Linked DNA regions of Homo sapiens: region 1 is linked to region 2. Evidence: fine-mapped expression QTL. Tissue or cell type: whole blood. Region 2 holds a variant in brackets; the other region holds the start of a gene. All regions are shown on one strand. Distances are between the middles of the regions.

Region 1 (9,227 bases), 22 kb after region 2:
AAAATTAGCCAGGCGTGGTGGCATGTGCCTGTAGTCCCAGCTACTTGGGAGGCTGAGGCAGGAGAATTGCTCGAACCTGGGAGGTGGAGGTTTGCAGTGAGCCAAGATCGTACCACTGCAGTCCAGCCTGAGCAACAAGAATGAAACCCCATCTCCCAAAAAAAAAAAAAGAAAAAAGAAAGAAAGGACAGAGTCCAGGTTGGAGGGGCTTCCACTGGCAAATCAGGGTAATGACATCGAAATAAATGAGATCAATTTTAGCACACCCATACAATGAAATTTTATCCAGCAAATAAAAAAATGAACTACTGGCCGGGCGTGGTGGCTCATGCCTGTAATCCCAGCACTTTGGGAGGCTGAGGGGGGCGGATCATGAGGTCAAGAGATCGAGACCATCCTGGACAACATGGTGAAACTCCGTCTCTACTAAAAATACAAAAAATTAGCTGGGCGTGGTGGCATGCGCCTATAGTCCCAGCTACTCGGGAGGCTGAGGCAGGAGGATCACATGAAACTGGGAGGCAGAGGTTTCAGTGAGCCAAGATCGCACCACTGCACTCCAGCCTGGTGACAGGGTGAGACTCCATCTCAAAAAACAAACAAACAAAAAACAACATCAACAACAACAAAAGTAAACTACTGTCATAGACAAAAAGATATATGAATTTCAGAAGTATTATCCTAGGCACATATGAGAATATAAGAATATATATAATATGATTCAATGTATATGAAATTATAGAAAAAGCAAAAAAGTGACAAAAAGAAGATGAGTCGCTATTAGGTGCTAGGAGTAGGGAAAGGAATGACTGCAAAGGGGCGTGAGAGGACTTTCTGAAGTAATGGAAATACTCTACATGATGACTGTGGTGTAGATTACACACTTGTCACATTTGTCACATTGTACACATTTGTCAATCACTTAAAATTGGTGAACAATTGTATACAAGTTATAATTCAATAAAACTAATTTTTAAAAACAAAATAATTTTAAATAGAAAATGAAAATAATACAAATTGTAACTTCTTGAGTATTTTTGCTATGATTTTTTTAAATGGGAAAAAGAGAAAGCTCTCCTCACAGAAAAATGCCAACTAATACATACAGAAGGAATGGTAGAATGGGAAAGTCACTATCTCGCAAACATCATAAAATCATAAAAATCAAGTTAGGCAGGAAGTATCAATGGATACTGAAACTAGTGGGTGAAGATCTGATGCAAAGTGGAACATTTACATGATTCCAATGCATCTGCCCATTAAAATTAAGGTTAGAATAATCAGTAATGGGAAAATTAAATTCATGCACCAACTGATGGGCTGCAATGAAGAACAAGGAATAACTACGCTATTCCTGCCAAAAACAAAGAGCCTGAATCTAGACACCAGGAAATATCAGACAACTTAAACAGAGGATATTCTTCAAGTTAAGTGGCCTGTTATCTTCAGAAAGGTCAAAGCTATGAAAGCCAAGGGAAGACTAGGAAACCATTCCAGACTGAAAGAAACTGGAGAGAGGTGACAATCAGATGCAAACAAAGCATAATACGGGATTTTGATCTCAACACTATGGAGGGTCTGGTTGTAACAAATAATGATAGAACAAGGATGGGGTCTGTGCATTAGATGGAAGCATTGTATCCAAGTGTATTTCCTGATTTGGGTGCTTGTGTGAGATCACCTGGAGTTTCCAAGTTTGTTGGGGATGTACACTGGAGTTATGCTGAGATACTGAAGCCTCATATCTACAGTATGCTCTTGGGTGGTATGGGGGAAAAAGGTCTTTATTTTAAGTTTGAAATTAACATTAAATATATAACATGATGAATGCATACAAAATAGGAAAATTCTAGCAATGCAACTATTATTTTAAAATGTTTCATCTAATTATATTACTTAAAGATAAAATGTAATTGAATTAAACTGGGAATAATTAAATCAAAAATTAAAAAGGGAGAGGAGCAATTAGAAAAATGATATATTTGATAACTGGCATACAGTTCAAAATGACAAGAGTTTCACAGAATACTGGCAGAATTCTGAGTTCTGTAATACACTACAGAAACAGGCCACCTTCAGGGTGATTTTCTAAGTAACAAAAAATGTATCAGGAGGCTGGGCATGGTGGCTCACACCTGTGGTCCTGGCACTTTGGGAGGCCAAGGCGGGCGGACTGCTTGAGGTCAGGAGTTTGAGACCAGCCTGGCCAACATGGCAAAATGCTGTGTCTACTAAAAAATACAAAAATTAGGCGGGCATGGTGGTGCGCACCTCTAAGCGCAACTACTCGTGTGGCTGAGAACAAGAATTGCTTGATCCTGGGAGGCAGAGGTTGCAATGAGCTCGGTCTCCAAAAAAAAAAAAAAAAAAAAAAAAAAAAAAAACAGTATCAGGAGCTTTAACTATAGTCTCACTTAACTCTGGCAACCAATCCTATCTGGAAGACATTATTCTCCCTTTCTTAAAACAAGGAAACTATGGGAGAAGCTAAATAAGGAACTTGTCAAGGTTTCACAACTAGTAAGTGGCAGCCAGGATTGGACTCAGGTCTGCAGAAACCAAATGTCTTTGCTCTCAATCATGAAGGCACTCTAATGCCTTTCCAGCTCAGGAATCAAACCCATTCCTTTTAGAGTTCATTGATTTGTTGTGCGGTTAGTCCATTACTGCAACCAATATGCCAAAACATTACCATCTTTTAAATGTTTAAAATGGCTATTAAGTTGTGTTTTTGTTCAACAACCTTAAAACATCACCAAAGTTGAGAATATAATGAATAATTTCATCAGCCCCACGTGGTCAACTGTATATAAAGGTATGGGCTTCTTCAACATTAGAAAGTACTGTGTGTGTATTATCATACATATGCATTAACAAATATTAGGTCAGGCTGGGTACTGTGGCTCACGCCTGTAATCCTAGTACTTTGGGAGGCCAAGTCAGGATGGCTTGAGCCCAGGAGTTTGAGACCTGCCTGGGCAACACAGTGAAACGCCATCTTTCCAAAAAAGACACAAACACAAAATTAGCCAGGCATGGTGGCACGCGCCTGTAGTCCCAGCTACTAAGGAGGCTGAGGTGGGAGGATCATCTGAGCCCGGAAGTTCGATGCTGCAGTGAGCCTTGAAAGCGCCACTGCACTCCAGCCTGGACGATAGAGCAAGACCCTGACTCTCAAAAGAAAAAAAAAAATCGGCAAACTACTTAAATTCTTCTGTGTAATTTCCCAAAGTAATGAAAAAGCAGAAATTCTAAGCAATCTACCAACAATAATCTTGGTCATGTCGAAAAAATAATTCCAAACAGAACTTAAGATGTGTCAGTAAGGTGACAGATCCAATGTTTACTCTGAAATTTACTACACATCCACAGGGTGCAGTAAAAGCAACCGCATCAGTCTACAGTGTACCTGGGTGTTTTCCCCAATTACCCTACCACATTTAATTAAAAATAAATGCAGCCTCAGTTGAAATCCTAAATGCTAATATGCTCGTCTGGGTTATTTCTTCTGAACTCGATAAAACGTAAGGAAAATTTGACTCAAGTGAACTGAGGATTTCTCCTGAGAGGAGGGACAGGACAGGAAAGGAGGTAAGAAAAGGAGTTGGGGGAAAAATGCTAAAAGAGAAGCGACGACTATTGGATTTTAAGTTTTAAAATCTTATTTCCACGAGCAACTCTCGCTCTCCGGGGGAAAAAGGGAGAGGTGAGTTGACTGGGAGTTCATCCCTCTGAGAAAAAGATCCGAAGCGGAGTCTCGTGTTGTCTAGCCCGGGCTCACACTGCGCCTCCCTCCATGCCCGGGAAAACCATCTTCAGGAGCAGATGCACCTGCCGGGGACACGGGGCGAGGGGTGCGGAGCCTCCTCCACGTACAATTCTGGGGCGAGGGGCAGGTCCAACATCCCAGATGGTGACCACCACTGCGCAAAGCCGGGGCGCAGCGACCTTCCACGCCCTGCACCCTCCCTGGCTGATGCAACCCACACAGGTCATTGGTCTCGGCCCCTTACCTAGCGGAGGGTCTCCTGAATTCACGGTCAGAGAGAGCGTCGCCATCTCCACCAGTCCGCTGGTCCACCTGTCAGTACGCCTGGCTCGTGCCAGAACTACGGAGGACCCCGCGAAAGGAAGAAGATGCAACGTGTGCGCGTACCCGACGCCGCCGCAGCCTTCGCTCCGCCCCTGCGCCGCAGCTACTGCCGACACCGCGCACGCCGCGGTGCGACATCGTCGCGCGCCGTCTTCGTCCCCGCCCGCAGGTTCCAGAGCCTGCTACCCCTCCTCTTGGCCGCCAGGGTTAGAACGGCCTGCGTGGCCTTTCGTGCTGCGGTGGGAAAGACGCTGAAGTGGACGGGACTTTACGACACTTCGTCAAGTCAGCAGGTCGTAAAACAGCAGGTTGTAAAACCATCTTTAAGATGGGATAGGCGTTTATGTGAAGCACGAAACAAAAGCATGCACTGTCTTTATGTAAAAAGAAAAGTCCTGGAAGCATACACACGATAGCCATGATTACGTTGGGAATGGGAGAAGTTTTTCTCGTTGTTTATTTTATACATTCCCCCCCGTTTTTTTTTTTCCAAAACAAGAACGTATTTTCAAGAGTTATTTGCGTGTTGAAAATAATGGTTAAAGGAAATATAAAAGACTCTTTAAAAATCACTGCAGGCCGGGCGTGGTGGCTCACGCCTGTAATCTCAGCACTTTAGAAGGTGTAGGCGGGCGGATCACCTGAGGTCAGGAGTTCGAGACCAGTCTGGCCAGCATGGTGAAACCCCATCTCTACTAAAAATACAAAAATTAGCCTGGCATGGTGGTGGGCCCCTGTAATCCCAGCTACTTGGGAGGCTGAGGCAGGAGAATCGCTTGAACCTGGGAGGTGGAGGTTGCAGTGAGCCGAGATCGTGCTACTGCATCCAGCCTGGGCGACAGAGTGAGACTCCTTCTCGAAAAGAAAAAAAAAAAAAATCACAGCAGAGGCCGGGCGCGGTGGCTCAGGCCTGTAATCCCAGCACTTTGGGAGGCCGGAGGCGAGCGGATCTCGAGGTCAGGAGTTGGAGACCAGCTTCACCAACATGGTGAAACTGTAGAGACGGGGGTCTCTACTAAAAGTACAAAAATTAGCCGGGAATGGTAGCGCGCACCTTTAATCCTAGCTACTTGGGGAGCTGAGGCAGGAGAATCGCTTGAACCCGGGAGGAGGAGGTTGCGGTGAGCCGAGATCGCGGCACTGCACTCCAGCCTGGGCGACAGACTGAGACCCCGTTTCAAAACAAACAAAAAATCACTGCAGATAGGCGCAGTGGCGCGCTCCTGTAGTCTCAGCTATTAAGAAGGCTGAGGCAGGATCGCCTGAGCCCAGGAAGATGAGGCTGTAGTGGCCTCGCCGTGGACTTGCCTGTGAGTAGCCACTACCCTCCAGCCTGGCCGACACAGGGAGAGACCTGATCTAAAAAACAAAACAAAAAAACCCTCCGATGCCGCCCCCAATCATGGAGTCCACAGGTGTTTTTTTCAGCGTCTCATCTGATTCTCCCTTTCAAATCCTTTGTGACGGACGTGCATGCATGAGCTCCAGAGATACTCCAAGGTGTATACACACATTCGTGTGTGTGAGCTGCACCCATATTTCAAGGGCTGGTGTTAAAGTACGGGGACCCGGGATGGATTCCAAGAACCATCTCAACCACATCCTCGCCTACACTTTTTCTTAACCTCCCCAAGACATCCTTGTTTTCATTAGGGAGGGCCCCTTAGATTACATCTCCCATGAGACTTGAGGCCAGGCGCGGTGGCTCATGCCTGTAATCCCAGCACTTTGGGAAGCTGAGGCGGGCGGATCACCTAAGGTCGAGAGTTTGAGACCAGCCAAGCCAACATGGAGAAACCCCATCTCTAGTAAAAATACAAAAAAATAGCTGGGTGTGGTGGTGCATGCCTGTAATCCCAGCTACTCGGGAGGCTGACGCCAGAGAATCGCTTGAACCTGGGAGGCAGAGGTTTCGGTGAGCTGACATCACGCCATTGCACTCCAGCCTGGGTAACAGGAGCAAAACTTCATCTCAATAAAAAAAAAAAAAAAAAAAAAGAAGCCTACTTTCAGGATAGTGGGACTTATAGCAGAAAGTCTTAGGTCTTAGAGTTACCATCTTGTTGGATGCTTTTACTAGTTCCAATCATTTTTTAGTTATGTTGGATTTTCTAGGTAAATATCATTTTCTTCCTATCCAAAATTTACATGACCTATATCTTATCTCTTTCATTGGCTAGAACTTCCAGAATGATGTTAAATGGGAGCAATAATAGTGTCGAATAAGAGAGTATTTGCTTTGTTCCTGACTTTAGTGGGAATGCCGCTAATGTTGCATTATCAAGAATAGTGTCTGTGGCCGGGCACGGTGGCTCGCACCCGTAATCCCAGCACTTGGGAGGCCGAGGTGGGTGGATCACCTAAGTAGAGGACTTCGAGACCAGCCTGATCAACATGGTGAAACCCTGTCTCTACTAAAAATACAAAATTAGCTGGGCGTGGTGGTGCATGCCTGTAATCCCAGCTACTCAGGAGGCTGAGGCAGGAGAATCGCATGAACCTGGGAGCTGGAGGTTGCAGTGAGCAGAGATCATGCCACTGTACTCCAGCCCGGGGCAACAAGAGCAAAAAGTCCGTCTCAAAAAAAAAAATGTTAAAGAATAGTGTCTGTAAGCCAGGTGTAATGGCTCATACCTGTAATCCCAACACTTTGGGAGGCTGAGGTAGGCAGAACACCTGAGGTCCGGAGTTCGAGACTAGCCTGGTGAATATGGTGAAACCGCGTCATTTTACTAAAAATACAAAATTAGCCTGGAGTAGTGGTGCATGCCTGTAGTCCCAGCTACTTGGCAGTCTGAGGCAGGAGAATCACTGGAACCCAGGAGGCAGAGGTTGCAGTGAGCCTAGATGGCACCATTGCACTCCAGCCTGGGCAATAAGAGCAAAACTTTGTCTCAAAAAAAAAAAAAAAAGAATAGTGTCTGCTAGGTTGGCTGCAATGGCTCTTGCTGGTAATGTCAGCACTTTGGCAGGCCCAGATGGGAGGATCACCTGAGACCAGGAGTTTGAAGGTACAGTGAGCTATGATCGCGCCACCGCACTATAGCCTGGATGACAGAACAAGACCCTTTCCCTGAAAATAAAAATAAAAAAAGAATAGTGTTTGCCGCTGGTTTCTTATATATTCTTAGGTTAACAGGGTTTTTTTTTTTCTTTTTGAGACAGAGTTTCGCTCTCGTTGCCCAGGCTAGAGTGCAACGGCATGATATTGGCTCACTGTAGCCTCCGACACCTGGGTTCAAGTGATTCTCCTGCCTCAGCCTCCAAAGTAGCTGGGATTACAGGCACCTGCCACCACGCCCAGCTAATTTTTGTATTTTTAGCAGAGATGGGGTTTCATCATGTTGGCTAGGCTTATCTCGAACTCCTGACCTGAGGTGGTCTGCCCGCCTCGGCCTCCAAAGTGCTGGGATTACAGGCCTGAGCCACCGTGCCCAGCCCTGGATTCTTTTTAAAATCAAGAATGGGTATTGGATTTTCACTCCTTATTATTGTGTACATAAACAGGAGATACAGAGATGAAAGGTGAAGTCCCTGTCCTCAAGAAGCCTTTTTTTTTTTTTTGAGATAGAGTCTCATTTTGTTGCCCAGGCTAGAGTGCACTGGCATGATCTGGGCTCACTGCAACCTCCGCCTCCCTGGTTCAAGCAATTCTCTTGCCTTTGCCTCCTGAGTAGCTGGGATTACAGGTGTGTGCCACCATGCCCAGCTAATTTTTGTATTTTTAGTAGAGACGGGATTTCACCATGTTGCCCAGGCTGGTCTCAAACTCCCAACCTCAGGTGTTCTACCTGCCTCAGCCTCCCAAAGTGCTGGGATTCTGTGCTGGGATTACAGGTGTGAACCACCACGCCCAAACTTTTTTTTTTTTTTTTTTAGACAGAGCAGGCTGTAGTCCAGTGGCACGATTATAGCTCACTGCAGTCTCAATCTCCTGGGCTCAAGCGATCTTCCCACCTCAGCCCCCCAAGTAGCTAGAACTACAGGCATGCTCACCATGCCTAGCTAATTTTTTATTTTCTGTAGGTATGGGGTCTGTGTTGCCCAGGTTGGTCTTGAACTCCTGGACTCAAGCAATACTCCTCCCTCAACTGCTCAAAGTAGTGGGATTACAGGCATGAGCCACCGTGCCTGACCAAGAAGGCTACAGACTTTGGGAGGCCGAGGTGGGTGGATCACCTGAGGTTGGGAGTTGGAGACCAGCCTGGCCAACATGGTGAAATCCTGTCTCTACTAAAAATAGAAAAATTAGCCTGGCGGGCATGGTGGCACACACCTGTAATTCCAGCTACTGGGGAGGCTGAGGCAGGAGAATCGCTTGAACTCAGGAGGTGGAGGTTGCAGTGAGCTGAGATTGCGCCACTGCACTCCAGCCTGGGCAACAGAGCAAGACTGTGTCTAAAAAACAAAACAAAACAAAACAAAAACACAAGGTAAATAAAAATTGCTACACAGTGAGATATATGTAGCAATAGAAATATGTTCATATTAAAAACATTTTGGGGCCGGGGTGCAGTAACTCACACCTGTAATCCCAGCACTTTGGAAGGCTGAGGCGGGTGGGTCACTTGAGGTCAGGAGTTTGAGACCAGCCTGGCTAATATGGTGAAACCCCATCTCTACAAAAAATACAAAAATTAGCTGGGCTTGGTGGCACATGCCTGTAATCCCAGCTACTCTGGAGGCTGAGGCAGGAGAATTGCTTGAGCCCAGGAGGCAGAGGTTGCAGTGAGCCGATATCGCATCACTACACTCCAGCCTGGGTGACAGAGTGAGATGTGAGACTCTGTCTAAAAAAAAAAAAAAATTGAAATGAGAGTAAAAATAATAAACTTTGCAGAAAGTACAAAGATAGCTCAGAAGATGGAAGATGATTATCCATGTTGAGTGAGGAAGGAAAGACAGAATGGTAAAGGAAAGCTTTGGCTAAAAGATGGCATATTTGGCTGGGCACAGTAATATACCTGTAATCCTGTATGCCTGTAATTACACCTGTAATCCTAGCACTGTGGGAAACCGAGGTGGGAGGATCACTTGAGGCCAGAAGTTTGAGATCAGCCTAGGTAACATAGCAAGGCCCTGTCTCCACAAAGAAAAAAAAAAAATTAGTTGGGTGTGGTGGTTTATGCCTGTA
Region 2 (8,000 bases):
ACATGCAGTATCAATTTGAATTTATATATATATATATATATATATATATATATATATATATATATATATTAGTGCATTATGCTTTCTTTCTTTTTTTTTGGAGACAGTCTCGCTCTTTTACCCAGGCTAGAGTGCACCGGTGCGATCTCAGCTCAGTGCAACCTCCGCCTCCTGGGTTCAAGTGATTCTCAGCCTCCCAGGTATAGATGGGATTACAGGCATGCGCCACCATGCCCCGCTAATTTTTGTATTTGTTTTAAAGTAGAGATGGGGTTTCACTATGTTGGCCAGGCTGGTCTCAAACTCCTGGCCTCAAGTGATCCACCCACCAAGGCCTCCCAAAGTGCTGGTATTACAGGCATGAGCCACTACACCCAACCAATGCTTTCCTTTTTGTTTGTCTAGAGACAGGGTTTCACTCTGTTGCTCAGGCTGGAGTGAAGTGGCATGATCACAACTCACTGTAACCTTGAACTCCTGGACTGAAGCAATCTTCTTGCCTCAGTCTTCCAAGCAGCTAGAACTACTGAAGCGTGCCACCATACCTGGCTAGTTTTTTTTTTTAATTTATTTTTTGGTAGAGACAGGTTCTTGCTATGTTTCCCACGCTGGTTTCAAACTCCTAGCCTCAAGAGAGCTTCCTGCCTCAGACTCCCAAAGTGTTGGCATTACAGGCATGAGCCACTGTGCCCAGCCATTATACATTCTAACTTTTAAGATACAACTTGATTAAGATGCTACTGCATTATGCTTTGCAATTATTTGACACTGAAAATGTGTATCCAAAGTCACTTTTCCAAATGTATTGAAAGGATTTGCTTAGTAAAACAAGGAGTAATCCTGAGAAAAATGATATGTATGCACATATAATCACATGTGTATTTGTCTATATATGGACAGACATGTCAGCACCCATGAGTTTAAAGTAAGTCACATCAGCTAACCAAGTAATCATTTACATTTACCATTCTCTTCAGAAATTTTAATTCAGCATTTATGTGTAGTACGCTTCTTCAAAGTATTAAAAAATATTTTTTATGATTTATTTTATAAAGTAGGGTTTTTTTTTTTGGAAAAGGTCCATTTAAAACAAAGATTCGTTAACCTACAAATCCACATTGAAAACTAATCTAAACACATGTTACTCTCCTGTATTGTTCATATTTCTGGAAGTTTTCAATACTATTACTTTTAGGAATCAATTTGTGCAAAGTAGACTCAAAGTTTATTACAGGAAGCAAAGTATCTTCACCTAAAGATGTACATCACAGTATACCTAATCAATACAAAAAAAGCAACTCTAGGCAGACTCAGGACTTTCATAGATGGAAGTGATCTTAGAAATAATGTGGTAGAACCTTAATTGACAGGTGAGTAAACGGCCCGTGAAAGGCTACATGCCTTTACAGAAGGCCACCAGCCAGTGAACCCATGGATGAACAAAAGGCCAGGTTTCTTGACTATTTTGCTTGTACTCCATGTTTAAAGAAGATCAAAACAAAAGCACAGATGGCTACCTAGCATATTGAAGGAGATATACTTACTTGTATTTATTTCCAGTTCTTGGATGTGGTTGAATTTTGCAGCGATAAAGGGTTGGATCTCTCATGCATCCATTGTTACTACTCATGTCAATTTTTGCTCGCAAACAACAGGACTGACCAAACTGGCTCCCTTTTTTCATTTCTTCCCACATTTGTAGATTCTTCTCAATAGCTATAAAATGATAATTACATTACGGTTCACTAATCTGGTTAAATTCAAATTATTCTCATAGTGCTATAATTTGATATAAATTTTCATGTTCTTGTTTTATAACCACCCTGTGTTAGTTTAAAAACACTGTAATATTTCCAGTATCCAGTACCAAGAGCAAATGCGTCATTTTTTAATTAAAGAAGTTTCACAATACATTTAGCAAATACAAATACGTTTTAGAAAAGGTAACATCAATACATTCCACTCATGTGGTATCAATTAAGCATAAGAAAAAGTACAAGGCCTGAAGGCTCCGCTCACCTAGTGTTTCCCTTCCCATCATGGCACAACGGGCCAGCCCCTTCTCTTCTCATCTCCCTGAAATTTAACATTCTGCCTTTAAAGCAGAAGCATTCTTATTTTGCCACCTCATGCCTAAGGGACAGAATGGTTTGGTCCGGCCCTAAGGTCCCACAGGCATTGGCACTACAGACCGTGCCTATCTAAAGAACACAGCTCAGGTTGAGAGTCTGAGCTCATGGGCTCCCTGAAAGCCCCTTCATCATCCCAATGAGAAGCAGGATACTCTTGGATCCAAGAAAATAAGAGGTGATAGAAAACAGTGACACAGGAAAGAAAAGAGTTTAATACCAGAAAAAAGGACTCTACATTCCAAGTGGCTATGGCTCCCTCTATATCACAATATCTAGCAAAAACCTGCCCTGTATGCATACAAACTGTTAAACAATAATTTTCTGTGGAAGCTACTAGAAATGTAAGACACTTGCCCTCAAATAATCAAGATAGGTCTAAAAGTCCATTGGTTAGCCACCTCTGAAAATGTAGAAAACCTTTTCAAAATAAAAAAGACTCATTATAACTATTTTAATTTACTAATACTTCCCAAATGTGGCACTCCAGGTTTAATTATAGTGAAGTTCTGACAACATAATTACAGAATGAAAATCACCCAATTTAGAAGTTCAGGAGAGAAGCCATGAATAAGAAAGATATGCTCTTCAGTCAAGTGATATTTCAGAGATACAGGTTAGTACTGAGCTTGTACTATATATTATATTCATATTTACCCACATGCCAAAAGGAAGACTTGGGTGACAACATTATCATCAAACATTGTATTATAGAAAGGCTAAGTATTTAAAGTAAGAAAACTGTAAAATGTTGCAGAAGGAATCCTTCAAATTGAATGAATACAATGCAAAAGACTACACATAATAAGTGAGATACTAAGGGCATATTCACATGCAGTTGTGATGTTAATAAAATAACAAGAACATAAAGATAGAGGAAGAAAAAAGATTTCTAAGACAAATGAGTCATATACCCAAATGTATTTAAACTAGCAGCTTTTGCCAGATACGGTGGCTCATGCCTGTAATCCCGGCACTTTGGGAGGCCAAGGCAGGCAGATCACAAGGTCAGGAATTCGAGACCAGCTTGGCCAATATGGTGAAACCCCGTCTCTACTAAAAATACAAAAATTAGCAAGGTGTGGTGGTGCACGCCTGTCATCCCAGCTACTTGGGAGGCTGAGGCAGAAGAATCACTTGAACCTGGGAGGCGGAGGTTGCAGTGAGCCGAGATCGCGCCATTGTACTCCAGCCCAGGCAACAGAGCGAGACTCCTTCTCAAAACAAACAAACAAACAAAAAAACTAGCAGCTTTCACAAAAAAGAAATCACGTTCTACTAAAGAAGCACAATATAAGAATATCAATTAAAATATAAAACAATGTGGCTTACGGTTTTTTCTATGTTTAGAGTCTATCCTCTGCTCACGTTCTGCTTTCATCTGTTCAGCAGGAGTATCATCCACATAAGCCTTCCCTTCTTGAATTAGCTTCTCTGCATACTTCATTATAGTTTCAAAATGATCCGAAGTATAAGTAAATTGATCTGGTTTGATATGCAACATTGCAACATCTTCCAAGATAACCTGTAGTAAGAAACCAAAATAACCATCAGTATATCTTTTGCATTTTTTCGTGCATTTTCAACCCTTGATACTGCATTTAAGCAAATGTAACATAGACCATCAGTCTTATTTAGCCTGAAAATGGTTGTGGAAGTTACATGATATTAGATCAAAAAAGAAAAAACAGATAGATACTCATTATATTAGCCTCCAAATTTCCAGCTGAGAAAGCTGATCTCACGATGGAGTTTTCCATTTACTTTGGAAAAGCTGGTCATTACTGGGAGAACTGACAATCATTTGCCCTCTCTTTGAATACACTGCCATACTTCTGAATAAAGATAAGAGG[C/T]TAGGAAACCTTCACATTTTCCAATACCTACTTAGTGTTTATTTCATTCATAAACTTAAGATTATATGACCAAAAAACCTGCCTCCAGTGACCATTTAATAAATTGGTATTATAGGAAAACATATCATTCAGGTAAACTCTATAACTGGGGAAAGGAAAAATAACTCTTAAGTTTTTTGGTATGGGAGCTCGACATTTCTTGGCTTAGGTCTCAGATATGGAATATATAGATAGGGAAAAAAGCAGCTATGAGAACAAAATTTATTTTCATACCATGAAGGTATTAGGTAATCCTGTAACTTTAATTCACTTTTCTGGCAAAGGGTCATCACTACACTTTTAATTACCTTCTCAAAATCTTCCTTTTCTTTTTCAGGATTTGTGTCATCAAATCTCATGATCAGTTTCCCTTTAAAGTTAACCTGGTAGTGCTGGTTCAGAAGAGCAGCTTTTGCATGCCCAATGTGTAAGTAACTAAAACAAAAACATTTCACAAAGAAACTCATTAACATGTTTTAACTAAATACTTAAACTTAACCTTTTTGAGGAGATGAGAACTAAACAAAAGTCCTTCTAATTGGTACCCAAGTCATATTTTATTTTCTAACAAAAAGTACTGTGATAGAAAATCTGACCCTGACAGGAAAAAAAAAAAAGACTATACCATATATAAAACAATTATAAGAAACAACTTCAAATGTAAAATCTCACAGAGGGGACAAGGTATTTACAAACATTGCAACCTTAAGGAGATTCTCCTTTTTCTTTTTATCAAAAAGAATGATCATTTAATTAAAGTAAAGCTGCTTCAAAATTGTTTCCAACGCTACCTTCCACTGTTTGTCTTTAATAAGACCTACTACTACTGAGAACTGGGTGCCCACCTATGCCACTGGAGAGAAGCTCTTCTGAGACTGTCACTGTGATGACTAAATGAAAAGAGCACATGACAATTAGTAAAAGCCGCTTTACTTCTCTAGGCTTTGGTTTTCTCAGATGCCAAAATAAAAGTTTTTTTTTTTTTTTTTGAGACGGAATCTCGCTCTGTCGCCCAGGCTGGAGTGCAGTGGCACGTTCTCAGCTCACTGCAACCTCCACCTCCTGGGTTCAAGCGATTCTCCTGCCTCAGCCCCCCAAATAGCTGGGACTACAGGCACGCGCCACCATGCCCAGCTAATTTTTGTATTTTTAGTAGAAACGAGGTTTCACCATGTTGGCCAGGATGGTCTCGATCTCTTGACCTCGTGATCCGCCTGCCTTGGCCTCCCAAAGTGCTGGGATTACAGGCGTGAGCCACCGCACCCAGCCAAAAGATTATTTTTTAACTTTAATTTTTTAACTTCTATTTTAGGTTCAGGGGTACATGTGAAGTTTTGTTATATAGGTAAACTCATGTCACGGAGATTAAAAATAAAAGAATTTTAACTAAATAATCCCAAAGGTCTCATCAGCACCAACACTCAATGAATCAGAATCTACAAAAACACTGTTCTGCTGTTCCTGTGAGCAGCTGACAATTGTAAGGAAGAATACAGATCAGAGACACTGTTGATAATATCACACATCAACACCCTCCTTCTATCAAGTACATGAGTAAAAGAAAATATGTTACACCACTATGTTGAAATACAGTTGATTGGGCTGACAAGGCATGAAGCAAGGAAGTTTAATCAGCTTTCACCAACTTGTATTAGTTTCAAATTATAATGATGGCAGCAGTGGTACAGTTTTTTTTGTTGTTGTTGTTTTGTTTGTTTTTTTTTTGAGACGGACTCTCGCTCTGTCGCCCAGGCTGGAGTGCAGTGGCGTGATCTCAGCTCACTGCAAGTTCTGCCTCTCAGGTTCACACCATTCTCCTACCTCAGCCTCCCAAGTAGCTGATACTACAGGTGCCTGCCACCATGCCCGGCTAATTTTTTGTATTTTTAGTAGAGACGGGGTTTCACTGTGTTAGCCAGGATGGTCTCGATCTCCTGACCTTGTGACCCGCCTGCCTCGGCCAGCAGTTGTACAGTTTTAAGATAGTTACCTGGTTTCCCACACAGGTTTGATCTCAGTTGATATCCATATGGGAGGGGGAAAAGTTTATGAAATTATATTATTTTATAAAATAAAATAATATAAAAATTCATAAAAGTTTATGAATTTACATTATTTTCAAATCAATCAAGTTTTTAAAAGTCATTAGCATCCCAGATCAATGATTCAACTTTAAGAAGGGCTTGGGCCGGGCACAGTGGCTCATGCCTGTAATCCCAGCACTTTGGGAGGCGGAGGCGGGCAGATCACGAGGTCAGGAGTTCAACACCAGCCTGGCCAACATGGTGAAACCCCGTCTCTACTAAAAATACAAAAATTGGCCAGGCACGGTGGCTCACGTCTGTAATCCCATCACTTTGGGAGGTCGAGGCAGGTGGATCACGAGGTCAGGAGATCAAGACCATCCTGGCTAACACAGTGAAACCCCGTCTCTACTAAAAAAAATACAAAAAAATTAGCCGAGAGTGGTGGCAGGCACCTGTAGTCCCAGCTACCTGGGAGGCTGAGGCAGGAGAATGGCGTGAACCCGGGAGGTGGAGCTTGCAGTGAGCCAAGATCGTGCCACTGCACTCCAGCCCGGGCGACAGAGCAAGACTCCATCTCAAAAAAAAAAAAAAATTATCTGGGCGTGGTGGTGGGCGCCTGTAATCCCAACTACTCGGGAGGATGAGGCAGGAGAATTGCTTGAACCTGGGAGATGGAGGTTGCAGTGAGCCAAGATCGCGCCACTGCACGCCAGCCTGGACAACAGTGCGAGGCTATGTCAAAAAAAAAAAAAAAAAAAAGGAGGGTTTATATACAAAGACTAATGCAAACAACTACAATGCAACATATTTAGGGCTATTCAAAACTTTATACATATAATAAAGGGCTGTACGCCGGGTGCAGTGGCTCATGCCTGTAATCCCGACACTATGGGAGGCCAAGGCAGGCGGATCACCTGAGGTCGCGAGTTCAAGACCAGGCTGACCAACATGGCGGAACTCTGTCTCTACTAAAAATACAAAAAATTAATTAATTAATTAATTAAAAATTTTTTAAAAAAAGGGCTGTATGTGATATCCCAGATGAAATCTTAGATCAGAAAAGAGATACTAGGGAAAAACTAACAAAATCCCAAAAAAGGATGGAGTTTAATAACATATTAATATTAGTTCATTAGTTGTGACAAATGTACCATAATAATGTAAAATGTTAATGTTAGGAAAAACTGGGTGCAGGGTACATGGAAACTTTCTGTACTATTTTTGCAACTTTGTGTAAATCTAAAACTATTCTAAAATTAAAAATTTATTAAAAATAAAACTAAATGAAGGGCCATAAGTTCCCAGGAAGAAAAATATTGTGGTGTACTTTTAACTTGAGGGCGTTGCACCCAATAACATGTTATAACCATTGTCAAGAAAAGATTAACAATTAGTACCTATTATTTTACAGTTAATGTGCTTGGCTTTAAAATACAGAAATTAATTTAAGAAAGGTGATGAGATCAAAACATTATTTCAAAAATGTTATTTCTAAATCTGCAGGTCTAACAATTCCAAACCTCAAGAAAGCTAAGAGGACTATAAGTCACAAGACAACTAAAATCATCAGTTAAAGAGTGACTCTATATCAGAATCGCTAAAACACACACACACGCGCACACACACACACACACAAAAGAATCATGCTGCATGAGTTAGAACTGATGCTGAATTGGGCTTCTGCCATATGTTAACAGATACATGTAGTACAATTTTTAATTATATGGATTCTAGAGCCAGATGGTAGAGGTTTGAGCTTGGCAAGTTACTACAACATATGAATCTGTTTCCGAAACCATTTGTAAAACAGAGATAACAACAGTGCCTCCTCAGAAGGCTGTTGGGATTAATAAGTTACTATAAGTAAAGCATGTGGTAGCACCTGTACATAATAGGTGCTATGTATATGTTAGCTAAGAATAAGAATAAAAGACTAAGCCAAGCCTTCTGGC

The links. PIP is the estimated chance that this variant, and not a neighbour inherited with it, causes the effect.
Region 1: it holds the start of EPRS1, and the variant in region 2 is fine-mapped to the expression of EPRS1 in whole blood (INTERVAL, PIP above 0.99). The same link has a PIP of 0.9 or more in blood mononuclear cells.

What each region holds. Positions count from the first base shown.
Region 1 is chr1:220,042,330-220,051,556 of GRCh38, forward strand. It overlaps EPRS1 (glutamyl-prolyl-tRNA synthetase 1), which reads right to left and starts at 4,176. Exons shown (of 32, transcript NM_004446.3): 1 at 4,014-4,176. The coding sequence starts at 4,059. RefSeq lists enhancers at 3,329-3,886, 3,928-4,257, 4,318-4,387.
Region 2 is chr1:220,020,803-220,028,802 of GRCh38, forward strand. EPRS1 (glutamyl-prolyl-tRNA synthetase 1) reads right to left here. Exons shown (of 32, transcript NM_004446.3): 7 at 4,330-4,456; 8 at 3,462-3,654; 9 at 1,545-1,716. Among named protein-coding and RNA genes, the nearest start is that of EPRS1, 22 kb to the right of the region's middle. RefSeq lists an enhancer at 5,929-6,430. The variant C/T (reference allele first, on the strand shown) is at 3,983.